2 linked regions of the Homo sapiens genome follow. The protein of the gene in region 1 interacts with the protein of each later gene in a biochemical or structural test. Each region holds a gene or a part of one and is shown on either strand. Other genes may lie near its edges.

Region 1 (3,752 bases):
AGCGAAATATATAATAATAAAAACTATTATTACCATCATCCTCATCCTCATAATTGCTATTATCATGGTCAATTTCTCCAAGCCGGTTCCCCCGGGAGCCGGGGAGCGAGAACAGGTTTTGGCGGATGCTAACTTCCACTCGCTGCTCGGCAGATCCATTTTGGCTTAGCAAAAATATCACAGGGATTTATATTTACATTTTTTGAAGTAATATAAATGTCTCAGCCTCTGACAAAATAAATACGAGTCCCGCCAGAAAAGGCAAGACTAAGCATTCCACATTCATAGAGTAAGGGGACACTTGGGGAGTTTTTAAAGATGAGTGCTTAATTATTTAAAGAGAAGACATACGTTTTCTCTTCCATATTTATAAATTACTGTTCGCTACCAAAGCATTTCTAAAGATGCGAGCGTTGTGCAGTCGGTGGACTTGGCAGCGCTGTCGCAGCCACCTGTGCGGCATCATACAGCAGCATTCAACAGATGCTTCAAGAAAACTGCGATGGGTTTTTGCTTTTCGAAACAGAACTTGGGTGCCGACAGTATGTTCACTGCCAAATTAAATTTCAAAGCCTGAATTCAGTGGCGATGGAGGGAATCAGAGGATTCCCAAAATGCCCCTTTTGGAATAGACTGGACAGCTCCTTTCACAAATATGGAAACAGAGGCACAGAGAGAAATGACTGTTCCTAGGGCATCCAGAATAAGGAAGGGGCCTGACCCTTATCATTGCTTCCACTTCCTTCTCCATCTCTAACTTTTGGGGCTACTGAGGCAAACTTCGGCCTTCAGAATAGCCGGCAGCTCCCACCCCTTTTGCGTTCTGCCGGGTTAGGTCCTCCAAGCCTCTCTCTGTACGGCCTCTCTGTAGCCTCTTCTATACACTCGCTGCGCTGCCGTCCGGTCCTAAGTAGCCAAACCGGAGGCTCGATCTTTTGCTTCGGTCCAGCTACCTCCGACAGGCGGGGAGCCAATCTCCACTTTTCCCACCCCGGTCCTCGGTACAGGGCCGAGAAACCTCGGCCGCGACCCGAGACCACCACCCCCGCTCGCCCCTTCGTTCCCTCTTAGGAGAGATCTGCTTCTGTCCCCATTCTCCGTGGGATCATCTCCATTACTCAGCTTGGTTTTGGTGCCTCTGAGCCAAGGGGGCCCCGTTCACCCTTCTCTGCGCTGCCGCCAGGACACCGCAGGCACCTGCCCGGTTGCGCCTGGGAGCCTGTGAAAAAGAGCTCTGCCTGACCGGTTAGAGCTCTGCCTGACCGGTTGCAGCTCGGCATCCCAGCAGTTGCCAAAAGAGAGCCTTTGTGGTTCACCTCTTGCTGCCTTGACCTTGCATTGACAGCACCCCTCCCTCCCCCACAACGACTGGGCAACCGACTGGCTGTGGGCCCAAGGCCCTGTGCCAGAGAGATATGTTCACCCCCTTGGAAACCCGTAAGAGCTGCCCTCAAGGTGTCTTTCTAATGAGGCCTGTGGGGTCAAGAAAGGAACTAAACTGTGCCTTCCCGGGGCTCGAAGGCCAAGAGCTTTTCTTTCTCCTTTGGGGTTAGGGAAAGGATGGGGAGACAAGGATGGGGAAGTGGGCCTTATAACAGGATTGTGGCCTTTGCGCACTCACCAAATGTTTGACCCTGTGAGTGCCTCAGTTGCTACTGTTGGAGGAATGGGCAAGAGTCGGAACAGAGACCCTTGAAGGGAGTTTCAAAGCTTGATGAAATTTGCAAGACTTGAGAATGCTGTTTGTTGAAATGAAATGTACAGGGGTGTGTGTGTGTGTGTGTGTGTGTGTTTGGGGAGGGGTATGCTATGAATCTTTGAGGGTACATTCTTGAGAAAGCCTTCCCTCTCTCTCTATCCGGTGCCATGGCTGATCCTGGTTCCCCCTACTCTCTAGGCCTTGTGAATCAGATTAATCATCACCCCCACCCCCATCTCCACCATGGGGTCTCGCGCCCCCTGCCAGCAGGCTCCAGATGCACTAAGAGACCGGTCCAAACAGGCCCGGGGGCCACGTAATGCTGAGTGCTGATTGGCTGCTCTTGGCTCCTCCCCTCATCCCGCTTTTGGCCCAAGAGCGTGGTGCAGATTCACCCGCGCGAGGTAGGCGCTCTGGTGCTTGCCGAGGACGCTTCCTTCCTCAGATGCACCGATCTTCCCGATACTGCCTTTGGAGCGGCTAGATTGCTAGCCTTGGCTGCTCCATTGGCCTGCCTTGCCCCTTACCTGCCGATTGCATATGAACTCTTCTTCTGTCTGTACATCGTTGTCGTCGGAGTCGTCGCGATCGTCGTGGCGCTCGTGTGATGGCCTTCGTCCGTTTAGAGTAGTGTAGTTAGTTAGGGGCCAACGAAGAAGAAAGAAGACGCGATTAGTGCAGAGATGCTGGAGGTGGTCAGTTACTAAGCTAGAGTAAGATAGCGGAGCGAAAAGAGCCAAACCTAGCCGGGGGGCGCACGGTCACCCAAAGGAGGTCGACTCGCCGGCGCTTCCTATCGCGCCGAGCTCCCTCCATTCCTCTCCCTCCGCCGAGGCGCGAGGTTGCGGCGCGCAGCGCAGCGCAGCTCAGCGCACCGACTGCCGCGGGCTCCGCTGGGCGATTGCAGCCGAGTCCGTTTCTCGTCTAGCTGCCGCCGCGGCGACCGCTGCCTGGTCTTCCTCCCGGACGCTAGTGGTAAGTTGGAGCCCCGGGCGGCATTGCTAGCCGAGACCCCAACGATTTAGGCGGGGGATGGGGTGGGGAGCGGGGACAGGTCCCGGATGGCTGCAGCCTGCAGGACCGCACTGGCCCTAGCGGAGGTTGGGGGGAGGGACTCTGAACGCGCAAATCGCGAGGAGACTGAGTCTCTGGAAGAAGAGAGGAGCTTAGGTTCCACGGAAGGAGCATAGAAGTCTCTAAGGGGATTGGGAGCGGGGGCTCGAGATGAAGACGCTGGGCGGAGGCGGGGGTCTAGAGAACCTGGCGCGGGGGAAGCCGAGACAGAAACGGAAGGCGGGGGTGGGGTCTCAAGAAGTGAGGAGTGGGAGGAGAGAAAGGAGGGAAACTGAACGCAATGTCGCTGAGTAGAGGGTCGGGCTGCGGAAGATGCAACTGAGTTGCAGGACCGACTACAATTTTAAGAAATCCGACAGCAGGCAAGTGGGAGGGGGCGCAAGGTTTGGGACAGTGTGTGCAGAGGGGGAACCAAGGATCCTTTATTATGTTCTCATTGAAAAGCGACCCTAATTTTTCTGGCGGGTCTCAGCGAACATCCGTAACTCTGGGGAGATAACACACTGCGGATCTGTGTTTGGTCTAACAGCTGTTAGCTGAATTTGAACAGCGCTGCTGGTGATCACGTAAGCTTAAGAGGAGAGGATAAAGGCATCCAGTGAACCTTTTTTTAAATAATTAATTAGCTTATCTAAGTCATTTGGTTACTGTTCTATATTTTGAAAAGGATTGCGAAAAAGTCTCCAGCGCTGCCTCTTATTCCTGTACTCAGTTTTACCTGACAAGCAGTCTTTACAGCGTTCCTCGGAATTGCTAAACATGAGAACAGGTTGCCGTTCCTGATGTCACATAAAGTTCGTCATTGCAAAACGTGTCTGTGTGTCTGTTTCTTTTCTGCGCCATGCCCTTTGCCTTTTGCTTCCTGTTGGGTAGTATGCGACTTGAGGTGACAAACACTTGCATTGTGTTTGAGAACCCTGTATTTTAAGCAACAGAGCTCCCCAACTCATAATTCAGCGAGTGACATTCGGCAGTTAAA
Region 2 (3,752 bases), on another chromosome or scaffold:
TTTTCTATGCCACCATATTAGCTGTAGAATGTAGCTGTTGAAATGACAGAATGGGTTTAAAGCCTTTTTTAAGTAGATAAATCATTTTTAAAAGCATCATCTCATATTTTGTGTATAATCTCCTATGTATAAAACAAGGTGACTTGTCTGGCTCTTTTGTCCAGGTACCTCAAAAAGTTTGCAAACCACCGAACTAGAAAGTTTGTCTCTTCCAATTCTAAGAATGAAGTTTTTTTTTTTTGTTTTAGTTATCAACTATATAACATTTTAACATAAGAAGACATATACTTAATTATATTACATTTATTTCTTCAGTAACTTCCAGTCAGATATGGCCTTACATCTATCTGTTGATAGAATAATTGTTGGTGTGATTTGAAGACTACTTTCAAGTCAGTGTGTCCTGTCAGGTACATTATTGATAAATGGATGCTCTCTACGGTTTTAGAATGAAAGATTTTTGTAAAGACCACTTGATGCACCTGAACAATTTTGAAAAATGTAACATTTTAATAGACTTTTAAAAACATAAGGATACATAGCACAGTGTAATGAACTGCCTTTTAACTGTTACCCAGCTCCAGAAATTCACATTTTGCCATTTTTGTTTACATTGATGGACATTTTTTACACATTTGAATTTCTGAGGTTTAAGGTCCGAATGGATGATCAAATTGGATTCCTCTGGAAAAACAGCAAAAAGCATTTTTTAGTTATTTGTTTTCTAAATCAACATTGAGCCTAGTAATTTGGTGCAGTTACTGTTGCAAAAAAAGTATGTTTTTTCGCAACAGTATAGAGATATATATATACATATATGTATAGATAGGCAGATAGATAGACTGCAGACTTTTCTTTGTGTGATGGCTGTAACTTAAGAAAATTAAATCGTTAGTGAAATAACAGAATCTACATTTATATTTCTGTCTAGATTGGGGATGGGTTTGCTGTGTTCAGAGACATTTTTGACCTATTCTGCCTTGCCTGTTTTGAATGTGTCTATTCTTACGTACAATTGAACTTTGATAGAGTTAGCTTTCTTCTCTTTTTTTTTTTTTTTTTTTTTGAGGCAGAGTCTCACTCTGTCACCCAGGCTGGAGTGCAGTGGCGAGATCTCCGCTCACTGCAAGCTCCGCCTGCCAGGTTCACGCCATTCTCCTGCCTCAGCCTCCTGAGTAGCTGGGACCAAAGGTGCCCACCACCACGTCCGGCTAATTTTTTATTTTTTGTATTGTATTTTTAGTAAAGACGGGGTTTCACTGTGTAAGCCAGGATGGTCTCGATCTCCTGACCTCGTGATCCACCCACCTCGGCCTCCCAAAATGTTGGGATTACAGGCGTGAGCCACCGCGTCTGGCCTAGAGTTAGCTTCCTAATTACTAAGTTTATATTTGTGAATCTTCTAATTTCATTGGTTGTGAATTTACTTTGACATTTAAATTTACTTATATTTAATGTTCTATAGGATGTGGTACTATATCACATTTTGGTGTAAGACAAGTAATAGATTTTAGGAGTTTTGAAATAGATAACGTTTAATAGAGGTTCTGTGTGTTTCCATGCTATAATTGTTGATACTACGGAATAAATACATTCTCTTGTGTTTCCTGAATAACTTTTAATACTTAGTCTGAAAATGTTTAGTCTGATAAGATTTTCTTTGTATTTTGCAACTCTACCATTGTTTTGAAACAGTGTCATAAATGTACTTTAAGCTTGTAAACTGCCCTAAGCTAAACCAGTTCATTGTGTCCATAGTGTTTGCAGAAAAATCCGACTCAGAAGACAGAGTGCCACTTACTGAAAGGTTTTTTCTCTCAGTAAGTGGCACTCTGTCTTCTGAGTTGGTACCTGTGGACCACTGGATTAAAGGAGAACAGGGGTCTTGGCCACCTGAGCTGTTTGGAGTCATTGAGTGCTTAGATTTTTCACTTCCTTAATTTGGAAATCACTTGTTTAGGCCGCAGTGAGTTATCTAGTTATCTGTTTGGGGTGCCAAGTGTCTTTGGATTTTCAGTCTGCATTGATCATTTATTGATTGATTCTTTGAACTGGTAGTTTATATTGACTTTTCATGCATTTAAAAAAGTTTGAGTCTCTAGGGGTTTGGTGTCCCCCCCTGTAGTTGATACATAGATTAGGTTCCTGTACTTTTGGATTATTCAGAGGGACAAGCATGTACGTACTGTATTATATTTGTTCTAAAATACCAACTGTTAAATATTTCAATATCTGGTATATGTCATTTTTAATTGACAGTGTTTCTGTGTTCTGACACATGAAATAGTGCATTTTATAATTGATACTCGCAATGTAATATAGAAATCATTGGTCTAGTGCTGATAGATACTTGGTAGTATCTTTGAAGGATGGCTTAAAGATTTAAAAATTATTGAAAGCAGAAAAGTTTTTACTAATTTTGAATTTCAGCTGATGTATTGTTTCTTTAGAGCTAAATATTTAAAGTTGTATCTTAACAAAAGTCCATGAACTGCACATTTGTTTAAAATTTACTCCCAAAACATACCTGGTGATTATTTTTGTATAAAGGAAGATAAAGTCTGCTTAATTTCACTCTGTGATTTAGGTGAGAGCAATTTGAAAACTTGCTTTTGTATTCCAGTTTTTTGTGCTTAAGTTTGAAAATTTTTTGAGTAGACGGGATATGGTTTGATTATAATCAGAGCCCAGGTATTCAGGTCCATAGTGGTTTCAGTTCATTCATGATTCTAAGGTGTGTGGGATCTGAGATGACACTGCTAGTCCATAGAGACTTCATACCAGTCTAAACCCCTGCAGTTATTTCTTACGGGATCAGAGAACTCATCTGCTTTCCTTGTGCATGAGAAAAACTGGGGCCCAAGATTAGGCTGGCTTTAGAGACTTGAGTAAGTTGAGTCATGTGATTTGTATATTTTGTCTGCAATAAATAAGCTTATTCTAATGCAGTGTTTTATTTCTGCAGAGATTTCAGAATGAAAGTGGATTATGTAATAATACTGTCCATTTATGAGTTTAGTTACCAGTTCATTTGTTGCCACTCTATTAAAATCTAATAGTTTCACTAGCCCTTATAAAAGGACATTACCCTATCTTTATTTGTAGATACTAGTTTCAAAAGTATGACCCCTTTGCCATCTTCACCATCTTTAAATGTACAGTTCAGGAGTGTGAAATGTATTCATATTGTTGTGAAACAAATCTTCAGAACACTTTCGTCTTGCAAAACTGAAATCCTATACCGAATAAACAACTGCTCCCCTTTCCTCTCACTTCCCAGCCCCTTGTGACCAACGTGCTGCTTTCTGTTTCAGTGAATTTGATCATGTTAGAAACCTCATAGAAGTATTTGTCTTTTTGCGACTGGCTTATTTCACTCAGTGTAGAGTCCGCAAGGTTCATTCATGTTGTAGTTGTTGACAGGATTTTCTTCCTTTTTCAGGCTGAATAATATTCCGTTGTATGTATATACCGCATTTTATCTAGCCATCCATTGATGGACAGTTGGGTTGCTTCCTCCTCCTGGCTGTTGTGAATAATGCTGTTAGGAATGTGAGTGTGCAAATATTTCTTCAAGACCCTGCTTTCAGTTCTTTTGGATATTTACCCAGAAATAGGATTGTGGGATCATACGGCAGTTACATTTTTAATTTTTTGAGGGCCCACCATAATGTTTTCCATAGTGATTGCAGCATTTTACAGTCTCACCAGCAGCACACAGGATTTCCAGTTTCTCCACATCCTTGCCGATA

Evidence for each region. Proteins that work in one complex are often made in the same cells at the same time.
Region 2: the proteins of HTR2C (region 1) and DLG1 interact in a test that uses a peptide from one of them, tested with the Homo sapiens proteins (2 studies listed by IntAct, with this or other methods).

What each region holds. Positions count from the first base shown.
Region 1 is NC_000023.11:114,581,986-114,585,737, forward strand, and holds the start of HTR2C (5-hydroxytryptamine receptor 2C isoform a precursor), read left to right. Parts: upstream 1-2,100; 5' UTR 2,101-2,674; intron 2,675-3,752. UniProt on the Homo sapiens protein: G-protein coupled receptor for 5-hydroxytryptamine (serotonin).
Region 2 is NC_000003.12:197,291,972-197,295,723, reverse strand, and holds part of DLG1 (disks large homolog 1), read left to right. Parts: intron 1-1,775; exon of another isoform or gene 1,776-1,846; intron 1,847-3,752. UniProt on the Homo sapiens protein: Essential multidomain scaffolding protein required for normal development. Recruits channels, receptors and signaling molecules to discrete plasma membrane domains in polarized cells.